2 linked regions of the Homo sapiens genome follow. The protein of the gene in region 1 interacts with the protein of each later gene in a pairwise test. Each region holds a gene or a part of one and is shown on either strand. Other genes may lie near its edges. The genes, in order: GAL3ST3 and RHBDD2.

Region 1 (6,758 bases):
CTCATGAATTTCTCAGTCTTGGGCCCTCAGGGCAGGAGCCCAGCTAGGAGCGCTCAGGACTCAGAAGGATGCAGAATTGCCAGAGTCTAGGGCAAGGTTGGGGAAACCAGTTCTCTACAGAAATAGCATATACAGTGTCTAAGGGCATGGACTTTGGAGCCAGAAACAGCAGGTATGAATCTCATTTCTACTGTTACCAGCTGTGTAGCTATGGACAAGTGATATAATCTCTTAGAGCCTCAGTTTCCTTATCTATACAGTGGGAATAATACCTAGGTCAGGGCTGTGGTGAGGACTAAATGGGATTAAGTATGTAATAATACAGTACATAGAGTAAGCCTGCAGTATCGACTCAAAGCCATATCGATCCAAGGAGGTGAAGGCCTGATCAGTGTTTCCGAGGAGCTCGGTTTCTCTGGGGAGTCAGGACCAACCCTGGGCTAAAGCAATTGGGCAAGGAGTCCTGGAGGAGAGGAAACTTTGAGTTGAGACCTCTATGTTCTGAGCCAAGCCCTGGCGCTAAAGCCACTCCACTGGGGAGACATGTACAAATAACCATGAGACAAAGACGAGTTAGGAGCAGGCAGAGAGACAGAGACAGGGCTGAGGGATGGGAGTGGCTACAGCCTGAAGGGCTGGCTACACCCCAGACCCTGTAATTCCACCCAAGACTAAGTTATCTGGAGCAGTGAGGAGATAGGGTCTTGATAACGGGAGGTAGGAATCCGATCTGCCCTGGCCTCTCTGCTTACCCCACCTGTTGGAGCTCTTTGCATCAGACCTGCTGGGGGCCAGATCCCATCTCCTCTGCCCACTGCAAACCCGTCTGCCTTCTTCTGCCAGGCTTCTCGGGAACACTGGCCCTGCTACCAGAGCCGCAGGATCCCCCATGAGTGCCTGTGAAGGGAGTCCTGGATAGTGAGGCCCTGGCTGGTCCAGGGGTGGGTACTCCGCCATGCCACCCATCCTCCAGCGCCTGCAGCAGGCCACCAAGATGATGAGCCGCCGGAAAATCCTGCTGCTGGTGCTAGGGTGCAGCACCGTAAGCCTTCTCATCCACCAGGGGGCGCAGCTCAGCTGGTAAGGGGGCGGGGCCCCAGGGGGGCCGGAGCTCCCCTCCCCATTCTTCCACCTGCTAGAAGGGTCCTGCTAGGCTTTGCTCCTCCCCTCTATTCTGAAAGTGCTTTCCCTTTAGGGCCACACAGCCTCCCTGGACAGGGACTGCTCTTCAATGAAAGGGCTGAGTGACTTGCTCAAAGTTACAGAATCAGTTAGCTGAGATCCGAATCCAGCTCAACTCCCCACAGCATGCAGCTAAGCATTTCCCCAGTGGAAACAACTTCTCACAACTTCCGTAGTGCTGGGCAAGGCCAAGTCCCCTCACTTCTCCGAGCCCCCGTTTTCTCATCTATAAAGTGAGACATGATATGTGTGACACAGCCAGTCACCCTCACACAGGATACCATGTGATTCATGGGAACCCCAACCCTACTCCTGACTCACTGTGTGAACCCAACAAATCCCTGCACCTCTCGGAGACTTCATGTCCCCATTTTCTACACTGTCTGCCCCTGAGAATGGTGTGAATGCGCCCAGCCCCCCTTGCCAGATAATTTGGTTTGAAATCCCAAACACCCATGTTTTAAGAATGAAGCAACAGAAATGAAAGCTTCACGAGGGCTAGGATTGTTTTTGTATATTACTGTATTTCTTGAACCTAGCATTAACCTGGCACATAGTGGACACCCAAAAAATATTTGATGACTGAATTAATGAGGCTTTAGAAGCCTCAAGAGAAACATAACAATGGGTTGCTGCAAAGCCCAGTGCCAACCATCTACAAAGTGAGGAGCCAGTTAAAGAGTAAAAATGAGAAAGAGCAAAAGGATTTAGTGACCATGTGAGTCGTCTCCAGACTTTGTGTAAGTGATTGTTCTCCTTTTGGCCCTCAGTTTCTACATATACAAAGTGGGATTCCTCAAAGATCTCCAGGGGTCTTTGTCCCTTATTTATTTCTACATAAACAAATTATCTTAAAGCTTAGCAGCTGAAAACACAAACATCTGTTATTTTGGGTCAGGAAGCCAGGTGTGGCTTACTGGGAACTTCTGGACCAAGGTCTTTCATGGGGTTGCAACCAAGGTGTTTGCTGGTGATGCAGTCTCATCCGAAGGCTTGATTGGAAGGGATCAGCTTCCAAGCTCACTCACGTGGTTTTGACAGGCTTCAGGTCTTCAAGCCGGCTGGTGGACTGAGGGCCTTAGGTCCTTGTGGGCTTTTCCCACTTAGTGGTAGCTCCCTATAGGGCTGCCCACTATATGGCAGCTTGCTTCCCCCATCATCTGTCATCCCAGATTGAGTGAAAGACACCAAGATACTAGCCAGCCACAGTCTTTCTATGATGAAATTTAAGAAGTGACATCCCATCATTTCTGCCCTCTTCTCTTCTTTAGATGCAATGATAAGTCCAGCCTAACTCAGGTGAGGGGAATACTCAAGGGCATGAATACCAGGAGGGCAGCAGGGATCATAGAGGGCATCTTAGAGGCTACCAAGCACCGCCCTCGACCTTTCCATGAGTGCAGCCCAGGCGGGGCCGCGCTGTGGGGCATCCCACAGTCCTTGGGTAAGGGCAGGGGTCAAGCGGCAGCCCCCTCACACCCTCCTCTCCGCACACTCCCTGGGCCTGGCAGGTACCCCAAGCTGTTCCCCTTGAGCTGCCCTCCTCTGCGGAACTCGCCGCCGCGCCCCAAGCACATGACTGTGGCCTTCCTGAAGACTCACAAGACGGCAGGCACGACGGTGCAGAACATCCTGTTTCGCTTTGCCGAGCGCCACAACCTGACGGTGGCCCTGCCGCACCCGAGCTGCGAGCACCAGTTCTGCTACCCCCGCAACTTCTCGGCGCACTTCGTGCACCCGGCCACGCGGCCGCCGCACGTGCTGGCCAGCCACCTGCGCTTCGACCGTGCGGAGCTGGAGCGCCTCATGCCGCCCAGCACCGTCTATGTCACCATCCTGCGCGAGCCGGCCGCCATGTTCGAGTCGCTCTTCAGCTACTACAACCAGTACTGCCCGGCCTTCCGGCGCGTACCCAACGCCTCGCTCGAGGCCTTCCTGCGCGCGCCCGAGGCATACTACCGCGCTGGCGAGCACTTCGCCATGTTCGCACACAACACGCTGGCCTACGACCTGGGCGGCGACAATGAGCGCAGCCCGCGCGACGACGCCGCCTACCTGGCGGGCCTCATCCGCCAGGTGGAGGAGGTTTTCTCGCTCGTCATGATCGCCGAGTACTTCGACGAGTCGCTAGTGCTGCTGCGGCGCCTACTGGCCTGGGACCTGGACGACGTGCTCTACGCCAAGCTCAACGCGCGCGCCGCCAGCTCGCGCCTGGCCGCCATCCCCGCGGCGCTGGCGCGGGCGGCGCGCACCTGGAACGCCCTGGACGCCGGCCTCTACGACCACTTCAACGCCACCTTCTGGCGCCACGTGGCGCGCGCGGGCCGCGCGTGCGTGGAGCGCGAGGCGCGCGAGCTGCGCGAGGCCCGCCAGCGCCTACTGCGGCGCTGCTTCGGGGACGAGCCACTGCTGCGGCCTGCCGCGCAGATCCGCACCAAGCAGCTGCAGCCGTGGCAGCCCAGCCGCAAGGTGGACATTATGGGCTATGACCTGCCCGGCGGCGGCGCCGGCCCGGCCACCGAGGCCTGCCTCAAGCTGGCCATGCCCGAGGTCCAGTACTCGAACTACCTGTTGCGCAAGCAGAAGCGCCGGGGCGGTGCGCGGGCTCGGCCCGAGCCCGTCCTGGACAATCCCCCGCCTCGGCCCATCCGAGTGCTGCCTCGCGGCCCTCAAGGTCCCTGAGCTCCGCAGGCCTCCAGGAGTATGGGTCCTGCCCTGCCCTCCCAGGAGTCCAGCCAGGGGCTGCCTCCATGTCCTGCCCCCATGAGAGCCCTTTCTTTTCAAGGGGCTTGAGTCCCTCGCTGAACTTTGGGGTACGCCTCCCTATCTGAGCCCCCGCTCCCGATCGTGGGCTGAACCTTGCCTTCGGGCACGGCGCTGATAGGCTGGATCCAGCGCTGGGCCACCCTCTCCTTCCCAGCTGGTTGGTGATTTTGACAAGAGGCCTGAGGGCTGTCCAGAACTGCTCACCCTGCCTTTTTCTGGGGGCTGAGCCCCCACAACCTGTCTTTTCCAAGTGGATAAGCCCAGGCCCCATGGAGAGAGGCTCAGCCCTAGGGAAAGGCTGCTCTTGCTCTCCCTCCCAGGGCTTGAGGCTCCCTATACTTTTCTGTCTTCCAGGTTCTACCCTCCCCACAGACCTAAGCTGCTCCCAGTCTCCCAGAACCAAGAGTTCTTGGGTTGGGATTTTTGTTTGGTTGGTTTTTCTTTTTTTTAATAAAACATCTTTAAAATGTGCGAGTTGTATGTCAGTCATAGAAGCCGGATTCCCCACATTTGAGGATGAAACGGATGCCCAGGAGGAGCTGTGGCTGGACCCATGAGGATGGGGGCCTGGACTCAAGGTCCCCCGCCACCTGGCATAGGCCTACAACCCTCCTCAACCGCTTGACCGACTGGGCCCCCAACACAGACTGGCCACCTTAGCCCCACTCACTTTCCACATCGTTCTTTTTCACAAAATTCTGCGACATTTACTGAGCATCATCTCTGTAACTTGGGGATACAGGTGAACCAGATAGATAGGGCCTTATTTTCATGGAGCTTATGGGGAAACATTGGAACAGGAGCAAGACAGGTAAGCAAAGAGGAAGGACTGGAGGGGTTAGAGCACAACACCTCTTTGGGTGGAAGGAGGATCATTTTCAGATAAGGAGCTGCCTAACTCAGAATTTGACCTCCTCCTGTGAATCACTGACTTCACTAATGGCCTGCTTTCCTCACAAGAAGACAACTTGGACTCAGATGAAGACCAGTCCCTTTCTGCAGTTTCCTTTAACACAGCAAGATAGCCAGCACTTCCAGGTGAAATCTCCCTTAAGACTAGCAGAGAATTGGAACTTTTTCTGTTACTTTCTTCAGAGCTATATCGACGTATCTGGACAAGTGATAAAAAACAATAGCTATTATGGTCTACGGTGTGCCAGCCACTGTTTAAGGGCTTTATGTATGTTAACTTTGGAGATGGGTGCCGTTTTCCAGGTGAGGGAACTGAAACTTGGGGGAAATTAAGTCAGGGTCACACAGCCAGAAAGTGGCCACTAGGATCTCAACCAAGGCAGTGTGGCTTCAGAGTTTGTGCTCACAAGTGCTGTCTGTAGTGCCATTCAAATAAAAAAGGTCACATGCCACAAGCTAGGCTGATTCCCAGCACCTTCCCCCAAAAGAATGTAAAGGGAAGAACCAGGACACTGCTATCAGCAACTCTTTATCCAGTTTTTCATGGAGACAACGGTTGACCTGTTTGGACAATGGACATTACAGTGATTGATTGGCAGGATGCATGACACGCTGGGCTTGAAAAGGGACTGTTTGTATGGCACCCCACTTTTTACCAGCAGAGCTCTGAAAAAGGCAATAATTAGAATCATGCAAAAGCATAATTAAGTTTCTGACATTAAGCAGCAGTAAAGAATTGTACCAGACTCAAAGTGATCTATCCAAAAACAGGTGTCCTCTGGCCCCCAGCCAATAAGGTGCTTGCCATTGTCTCCATCTGCACCCCCAGCCCTAGCCTCTGGTCATACCTCTGCCAGGAAAATCCTTCACCTTGCCCTCAGTTGGCCTGGAAAATTCAGACGTGCCTTTAAGTCTACTTTTTTTTTTTCTAGACAGTCTCACTCTGTCACCCAGTCTGGAGTGCAGTGGTGCAATCTCGGCTCACTGCAACCTCCACCTCCTGGGTTCAAGTGATTCTCCTGCCTCAGCCTCCTAAGTAGCTGGGATTACAGGTGTCTACCACCACGCCTGGCTAATTTTTGTATTTTTAGTAGAGACGGGGATTGGCCATGTTGGACAGGCTGGTCTCAAACTCCTGACCTCAGGTGATCTGCCCACCTTGGCCTCCTAAAGTGCTGGGATTACAGGCGTGAGCCACCATGCCCGGCCAAGTCTACTTTGATAAGTGTCCTAGTTCATTATGTGTTGCCATAAAGGAGTGACTGAGGCTGGGTAAAGAAAAAGGTTTATTTGACTCAATCCTGATGACTAGAAAGTTCAGGATTGGTATCTGTATCTGGCGAGGGTCTCAGGCTGCTTCCGCTCGGGAGCCCAAGTATGCAGAGACCACAGGGTGAGAGAGGAAGCAAGGGGGTCAGAGGAGGTGCCAGGTCTTTTTAACAACCAGCTCTTGGAACTAAGAGTGAAAAAACTCACTTATCCCCCAGGAAGGGCATTAATCTTTTCATGAGGAATCCATACCCATGAGCCAAACACCTCCCCCAATTAGGCCCACCTCCAACATTGGGGATCAAATGTCAACATGAGGTTTAAGGGACAAACAGCCAAACCACTGCAATAGGCCTCCCCTGGCCTCCCTGGCCCTCAGGCAGGCGGGCCCTCCTTTAAAAACCTTGCCCTGCTTCAGCAGAGAGCACAACTCTGGCCTCAGAAAAATCTGGAATCAGGGGCAAATGGAATCATCAGGCACTAGGAGAGGGTGCTCTGTTTGACTCAGGGGCAAGGGCAAATCCTAAAGCTGAGCAGGGGCTCTGGAACTCTTTGGTGGGAACATCTCCAGCTTCAGCCACAAGCCAGGGGAACAGGCCTCAGCCCCTAGGACTCCTGCAAAGAGGCTC
Region 2 (8,011 bases), on another chromosome or scaffold:
GTTATACTTGCCATGGTAGAGATGTGTGTAGTGGTAGAAATAGAACAACCTGGCTGGGCACAGGGGCTCACGCCTGTAATCCCAGCACTTTGGAAGGCCAAGGCAGGTGGATCATGAGGTCAGGAGATCGAGACCATCCTGGCTAACATGGTGAAACCCCGTCTTTACTGAAAATACAAAAAAATTAGCCAGACGTGGTGGCGGGCGCCTGTAGTCCCAGCTACTCGGGAGGCTGAGGCAGGAGAATGGCGTGAACTCGGAAGGTAGAGTTTGTAGTGAGCCAAGGTCGCACCACTGCACTCCAGCCTGGGCGACAGAGCGAGACTCCGTCTCAAAAAAAAAAAAGAAATAGAACAACTTGGCCAGGTGCAGTGGCGCACGCCTATAATCCCAGCACTTTGGGAGGCCAAGGCAGATGGATCACTTGAGGCCAGGAGTTTGAGAGCAGCCTGGCCAACATGGCGAAACCCTGTCTCTACTAAAAATACAAAAATTAGCAGGGCGTGGTGGCATGTGCCTGTAATCCCAGCTACTGGGGAGGCTAAGGCAGGAGAATCACTTGAACCTGGGAGGTGGAGGTTGCAGTGAGCCAAGATCACGCCACTGCACTCCAGCCTGGGCGACAGAGTAAGACTCTGTCTCAAAAAAATAAAAAGAAATAGAACAACTTTAGAGATCTAATGACCCAAGTTCAAATCCTAGCTCTTCCACTAACTCACAGTGTGACCTCCTCACATCCTATTCGTCCCTCGGTCAATCTTATCTGTTTTCTTCATCAAAACCCTGCAAGATAAGACTTAGTTCCCATTTTATAGATGAGGAAACTGAGGCTCCCTTACCCAAGATCACTCAGGCAGCGAGTGAAAGAGCCAGGGTGAGGTCCTGCTTCCTCCTGACTTCCAGCCTGAGCTCCACCAGCTCCACACTGGCTGCTTCTCAAATGCTAATGTAGGAGCCATTAATGTCTCCTTTAAGGGAACATTAAAGGAAATGGCCAGTATAACATGGTATTTATCTCCTGGTTTTTGGCTTGGCTCATGCCTGGAATCCCAACACTTTGGGAGGCCCAGGCACGAGGATCACTTGAGCCCAAGAGTTTGAGACCAGCCTGGGCAACATAGTGAGACCTCTGTCTGTACAAACAACAACAACAAAAAGGCCCAGTGGGCTGGGCGTGGTGGCTCAAGCCTGTAATCCCAGCATTTTGGGAGGCTGAGATCTCAGGCGGATCACCTGAGATCGGGAGTTCGAGACCAGCCTGACCATCATGGTGAAACCCCGTTTCTGCTAAAAATGCAAAATTAACCGGGCATGCTAGCGCATGCCTGTAATCCTAGCTACTCGGGACGCTGAGTCAGGAGAATCGCTTGAACCGGGGAGGCGGAGGTTGCGGTGAGCCAAGATCACACCATTGCACTCCAACCTGGGGAACAAAAGCGAAACTCAGTCTCAAAAAAAAAAAAAAAAAGTGCAGTGTCTCACACCTGCAATCCTAGGTTTCCCTTAAGGGAAACGTGAATATCTCCTGCAACTGCCCTCTCCGAGCCTAAACCCTCTGCACAGCAAATGCAGAAAACTCTTTCTACAGAGAGCTAGGTGGGCTGACTGGCCATGCCATCCTAGACTGGTGTACCTCAGGTCTCCTCTTCAAAAAATATCTTGAAATTCTTGCCAGAAATTCAGTGTGAAATGCATTCGGGATGGTGGCTGTTGTTATAACAGTCCCCAGGGGTCTCAATTACGTGAGAACCCTCGGCTTCTGGACAAGAGACAAGGAAGGGAAGTAGGTCACATCCCAAAGGCATCAGGGCTAATAACTTTGCATTGAACATTTTCTGTGGCCCCACTGTGTGCTAGGTGCCAGGGCTGTGGATACAGACACAGGTATAAATCAGACATGGCTTCTGCCCTTGGTAAGCTCACAATTACGGGCACAAATATGCAATGATAGTATAATATGGGAAGTGCCTCAGGAGGCTGAGGCAGCGAACTGCTTGAACCAGGGAGGAGGAGGTTACAGTGAACAGACATTACAGCACTGCACTCCAGCCTGGGTGACAGAGCAAGACTTCGTCTCAAAAAAAAAAAAAAAAAATTCCTGGAAGACTTGTTGCCTAATTTTAAGTTACTTAACTTCTCTGTATCTCCATTGCTTCATCTGTAAAACGGGCGTAATTACAGAACCAGCCTCACAAGGGTTGTGAAAATGTAATGAGTAACTACATAAAAAGCACACAACAGGCTAGGCATGGTGGCTCACACCTGTCATCCCAGCACTTTGGGAGGCCAAGGCGGGACGATTGCCTAAGCCCAGGAGTTCAAGACCAGCCTGGGCAACAGAGCAAGATCCCATCTCTACAAAAAAGAAGCAGCTAGCTAGGTGCGGTAGCACGCACCTGTGGTTCCAGCTACTTGGGAGGCTGAGGCAGGAGGATACCATGAGCCCGGGAGGTCAAGGCTGCAGTGAGCTATGATTGTGCTACTGAAGCAGGACACACAAGCCCCAAAATTTAGCCTCCTTCCTTCAGAGCCAGCAGGAGCTTCTAAGCTATGGGGGGCAGCAGTTACAGCTGAGTCAAACCAAAGCCTGCAGCCAAGGGCAAGGAGCTGATAACACTAGGGTGGGTGTGTGGGGAAGGAGCCAAATACTTCTACCATGTGAGGGGAGGGAGTACTGGGCAGGGTCACTGGAGAAAGCGAAAAAGGTAGTACCCTTGAAGGTACTGCTGGGCACAGTGGCTCATGTCTGTAATTCCAGGACTTTGAGAGGTCAAGGCAGGCTTATCACCTGAGGTCAGGAGTTCGAGACCAGCCTGGCCAATGTGGTGAAATCCCATATCTACTAAAAATGCAAAAATTAGCTGGGCGTGGTGATGCACACCTGTAGTCCCAGCTACTTGGGACTCGGGAGGCTGAGGCACAAGAATCACTTGCATCTGGGTGGCAGAGGTGGCAGTGAGCAGAGATCACGCCACTGCACTCCAGCCTGGGTGACAGAGTGAGACTCTTGTCAAAAAAAAAGGAAGGTCTACCTTAAACAGCTGTTCTCCAGCAAAAGCACTTTTCAAACTGTAAAGTGCTGAAATAGATCTCGGTTATGAGTGTTCTATTACATCCCTAACTTTTGAGTCCCTTCCATTGAATCCCTCTCCCGTTTCCTGTCCCTTTTCCTTTTTTTTTTTTCCGAGATACAGTCTTGCTCTGTCACCCAGGCTGGAGCGCAGTGGTGCGATCTCGGCTTGCTGCAACCTCCGCCTCCTGGGTTCAAGCGATTCTCCTGCCTCAGCCTCCGGAGTAGCTGGGATTACAGGCACGCGCCACCATGCCGGGTTAATTTTTGTAGTTTTATTAGAGACGGGGTTTCACCATGTTGGCCAGGCTGGTCTCTAATTCTTGACCTCGTGATCCGCCCGCCTCGGCCTCCCAAAGTGCTGGGATTGCAGGCGTGAGCCACCGTGCCCAGCCTCCTGCCCCTTTTCTTCAATATGAAGATAAAGCTGCCCCTGGCTGTACTGGAGGCCAATTCCGGGCCATAGCAGGAGGAACTGAGTTCTAATTCTGTCTTTGCCATGTAACTGAATTACCCAGGGCCCTCCCTAGTCCTGTTTCCTCTTTGGTGTAATAGGGATGAATACAGATGGGAAGATCGTGATATGAAAGAGTTCTGTGAGCTGTAAGGCATAATAATCATGAGGTATTATTACAGGACCAACAGGTGCCTAGGCCCGCTGTGCAATAACAGACCAGTTACACTGAGGAAGCAGGGTTATCAGCAGAAAAAGGGTTTAAAGATGGCAGGGTGCCTAGGAGGAGACGCAGGGAGACCAACAAATCCATCTTCCCCAAGGAGTTCCGGGCTGGGATTTTAAAGGGCATTGTGAAGGGTGAGGGGCTGGAAAATTGGGGTCATCGACTGGTCAGGGTAAGGGGGTTGAAATCCTCAGGATATGGAAACTGCAGTCCCCATTGAGTCTTGCTTCTGTGGGCTCCTTCAGAACAACTGGTGTCAGTAATTATGCTGGTATGCGGGACCTGAAAGAATATCTCCAAGGGAAAACGTTTCATAATGTTCAAGTTGTTATCTATGGAGTTAAGGGGAATTGTAATCTTGTGACAGGGTCTACGTGATTCTAGGACAGACGATGGGCACCTATCATAGCTGATACACAGAGCTATGAGCAAGCAGGTCGGAGAGCAAGGTGACCTAGTGATGAACGCAGAGTGTGCTGCAAGCTTCGTTTATTTTCGTTTTTCCCCCTCCCTTCTTCCCTGATTAATTTCCTAAAGTTTATAGGAGCAGTTTCAGTACCAGCCCGAGTAGGATGGAATCAAACACGGTGCTGGAACATTCCTACCCGGAAGTGGCCCCGACCCCCCTCCCCCCGTCCCGGCCTCCCACGCACGGGGGGGGGGGGGGGGGGGGCTGATCGGCGCTACCGGATTGGACAACTTGGCATGGGGCGGGGCCTCTGGGAGGCGTGGCCTCCGGCCGGCTCCTCTGCTGTTGCCAAGGGAAACTGCCGCGAGGAGGCGGAAGGAGCAGAGGACCGGCAGCCGGCGTCGAGGCGGGGCGCGGGAACGACGGCGGCCATGGCGGCCTCGGGGCCCGGGTGTCGCAGCTGGTGCTTGTGTCCCGAGGTGCCATCCGCCACCTTCTTCACTGCGCTGCTCTCGCTGCTGGTTTCCGGGCCTCGCCTGTTCCTGCTGCAGCAGCCCCTGGCGCCCTCGGGCCTCACGCTGAAGTCCGAGGCCCTTCGCAACTGGCAAGGTGAGCAGGGGCGGGCCGGGATCGCGGGGCGAGTCCTTGTCCTCCGACTTTGCCGGTTCCTGGGCTCTAGCCTCCGGGACTCGCCCCTTCAGGCCTCACCGCCAGTCTCCCCCTGTCTCGGTCCTCATCACCATGCCCGCCCCCCGGAGGACCGACCTCCAGCACCGTCTCTTGCTCTCCGTGTTCCACACCTTTGTCTGCAGACCCCATCTTCGTCATCACTGTAATCCCTTCCCTACCCGAATTTGTTCCCTTCCCTGTCGCCACCAGACTGGTTAAGGCCCCAAATCCATTCGCTAGCAAATCCATGCTCGCTCTCCAAGGGTAAAGATTTTTCGTCTCCCCCTCCCATTTCACATACACACCTACGTCTGCTTTAGGCCTAAGCCCCACTGAAAAACGTTTTTCTCTCACCTACATCACGACAATTGGACTTTATCCACAAACCCCTATAAGCCCTATAAACGTCCTGCCCTCTTGAGATTTGGAATTTCTTCTGCTTTTTCATCTGTATCTTAATCTTGACTGCCATTCCCAGCTCATGGGGGTACCAGGGTGTCTTCTGCCTTTGGAGAGAAGTGTTTGTTTTTCTCTAGGGGAGAGAAATTTTGCAGACCAATTAAGTATAAACATCCATTCCTGAAAGACATTCCTAGTCTCCGTGTCTTCCTCATTTTCTCGAGAGGAACACAGGAAATTTGCATATCTCCTGCTGTTTTGCAAAGCACACACACTGATATGTATTAATTTCGTTTAACCCTCACAAGGATCCCATGACGTAGGACCTGTTATTGGCCCGTTATCTAGATAAGATTGAGGTTTCATGCAGAGAATCGCAGAGCTGTTGCGTCATGCAATTGAGATAGGAATCTATATTTTTTTTTTTATTCTGTGATGTTTTGGAACTAGAGCCTTCGGGTAGATAATCTCCAAATCATGTACAGTTGCTTCTAGAATCTTTTCATGTTTATACTTGGAATTTCAGTTTTGGAAATACTCAACAAATAATGAAGTACTCTTCAGATAATGAAGCCTCTGGTGATGGCCAGACTGAGGTATATGGTTCCATAGCCTGCTTCCCCACTCCAATCTAAAACTGTTCCCCCCACCCTAGGTATACATAGCACCACCTCACAGACAGAAGCAAAATGCCAACCTAACCTTAACCTCCCACTTTCTGGGGTTCACTGCTTCCCTGGGTGTGGGTTTCGTGGATATGTGAGCGTTAGAGACGTAAGGGACCTTTGAAGTCCTCAATCTAACTCTTGTTACTTTACAGTGAGGAAACTGACGCCTAGAGGACCTGTGACATGATTAAACTCAGCCAGCCTGGATGTAATAGAGCCAAGATTCCACTCCAAGTCTTTAGACTCCCAAGTCCAATATTACCATCAGTTCTTTGGTCTCTCTCCTTGAGTTTAGTCGTATTTGGGCATGCAGGGACATAAAAATACTTAAGAGATAACCACTTCTAAAATTTTTTTAGAGATAGGGTCTTCGTCTTACCCAGGCTGGAGTGCAGAGATGCAATCATAGCTCACTGCAGCGTTCAACTCCTGGAATCAAGCGAGCCTCCTGCCTCAGCCTCCCAAGTAGCTGGGACTACAAGTACACATCATCACACCTGACTAATTTTTAAATTTTTTTTAAAGACGGGGGTCTCACTATGTTACCTAGGCTGGTCTTGAACTCCTGGGCTCAAGTGATCCTTCCACCTAAGCCTCCCAAAATGCTGGGATTACAGGTGTGAGCCACCATGCCTGGCGATAACTGCTTTTAGAAAAATAAAAGGCCAGGAATGATGGTTCGTATGTGTAGTTTCAGCACTTTGGGAATTCAAGGCAGGAGGATCACTGGAGGCCAGGAGTTCAAGGCTAGCCTGGGCAACGTAGCAAGACTTTGTCTCTACAAATAAAAATTTAAAAAAAGGAAAAGGAGGATTCTTTGATGTCTTATTACATATAAAGCATCAGTTTACCTGTGAGATCGGATAAGCACTTTCTGAGGAGACTTATAATTTCTATAATCTTTATTGTTAATGATAGTGTTATAATTCTTACAGCTGCAAAATAATTCATGGTCCCTTTTTTCTTCCTCTGAACAGCCACTATGGAAGGAGGGGTCAGGATTACAGCAGAGGAGACTGGCACACAGAGTGTTAAGTGACACCCACTCAATCCACCCCGAAGCTGTTACACTTAATTAACCCTCAAACTGCCCAGTGAGGTAGGTCAGTATGAAAACCTGAAAAAGGATTATAAAGCACTTTACAAATTCAGAGACTGCCCTCTACCGAAAAGTATTATTTTTTTCCCTCTGGAAGTCAGTTACCGCTAAGAGTTGCACCAGGCCTGGGGAAGTGTAGGGATTAGATATTCATGCCTCTCCTTTGAGGCTCTGGGTCCTTCATTGTTGAACGCACTGCTTGTATTGCCTCCTGCTGCGACTCACTGGCTCTCACTTCTCTGTCACGGAGGGGGGCTCTCTGCCTTTCCTAGGCGGCTTATAACCTGGCTTCCCTCCTGGGAGCAACCCGCCGCCAGGCCTCTAACCCGACTCCCTCTGCAGTTTACAGGCTGGTAACCTACATCTTTGTCTACGAGAATCCCATCTCCCTGCTCTGCGGCGCTATCATCATCTGGCGCTTTGCTGGCAATTTCGAGAGAACCGTGGGCACCGTCCGCCACTGCTTCTTCACCGTGATCTTCGCCATCTTCTCCGCTATCATCTTCCTGTCATTCGAGGCTGTGTCATCACTGTCAAAGCTGGGGGAAGTGGAGGATGCCAGAGGTTTCACCCCAGTGGCCTTTGCCATGCTGGGAGTCACCACCGTCCGTTCTCGGATGAGGCGGGCCCTGGTGTTTGGCATGGTTGTGCCCTCAGTCCTGGTTCCGTGGCTCCTGCTGGGTGCCTCGTGGCTCATTCCCCAGACCTCTTTCCTCAGTAATGTCTGCGGGCTGTCCATCGGGCTGGCCTGTATCCTTCCTAGCAGAGAGCTATAGAACAACGCATGTCAAAGGGTGAACCAGGCTGGAGGGTCTGGGGTGTCAAGTAGATAAAATTGGGCTTACTTTGTATTTTTTCGAAACAGAGTCTCTGTCACCCAGGCTGGAGTGCAGTGGCAGGATCTCAACTCACTGCAACCTCTGCCTCCTGGGCTCAAGCAATCCTGCCTCAGCCCCCTGAGTAGCTGGGACTACAGGTGTGCACCACTACACCCGGCTAATTTTTATATTTTCTTTT

What was found.
Region 2: the proteins of GAL3ST3 (region 1) and RHBDD2 interact in binary tests that used the Homo sapiens proteins (3 or more experiments, as listed by UniProt).

Annotation. Positions count from the first base shown.
Region 1 is NC_000011.10:66,039,613-66,046,370, reverse strand, and holds the end of GAL3ST3 (galactose-3-O-sulfotransferase 3), read left to right. Parts: intron 1-843; 5' UTR 844-955; coding exon 956-1,080; intron 1,081-2,453; exon of another isoform or gene 2,454-2,502; coding exon of another isoform or gene 2,503-2,693; coding exon 2,694-3,864; 3' UTR 3,865-5,606; downstream 5,607-6,758. UniProt on the Homo sapiens protein: Transfers a sulfate to position 3 of non-reducing beta-galactosyl residues in N-glycans and core2-branched O-glycans. Has high activity towards Gal-beta-1,4-GlcNAc, Gal-beta-1,4(Fuc-alpha-1,3)GlcNAc and lower activity towards Gal-beta-1,3(Fuc-alpha-1,4)GlcNAc.
Region 2 is NC_000007.14:75,874,493-75,882,503, forward strand, and holds the start of RHBDD2 (rhomboid domain-containing protein 2), read left to right. Parts: upstream 1-4,541; 5' UTR 4,542-4,590; coding exon 4,591-4,768; intron 4,769-5,753; exon of another isoform or gene 5,754-5,823; intron 5,824-6,872; exon of another isoform or gene 6,873-6,998; intron 6,999-7,336; coding exon 7,337-7,744; intron 7,745-8,011.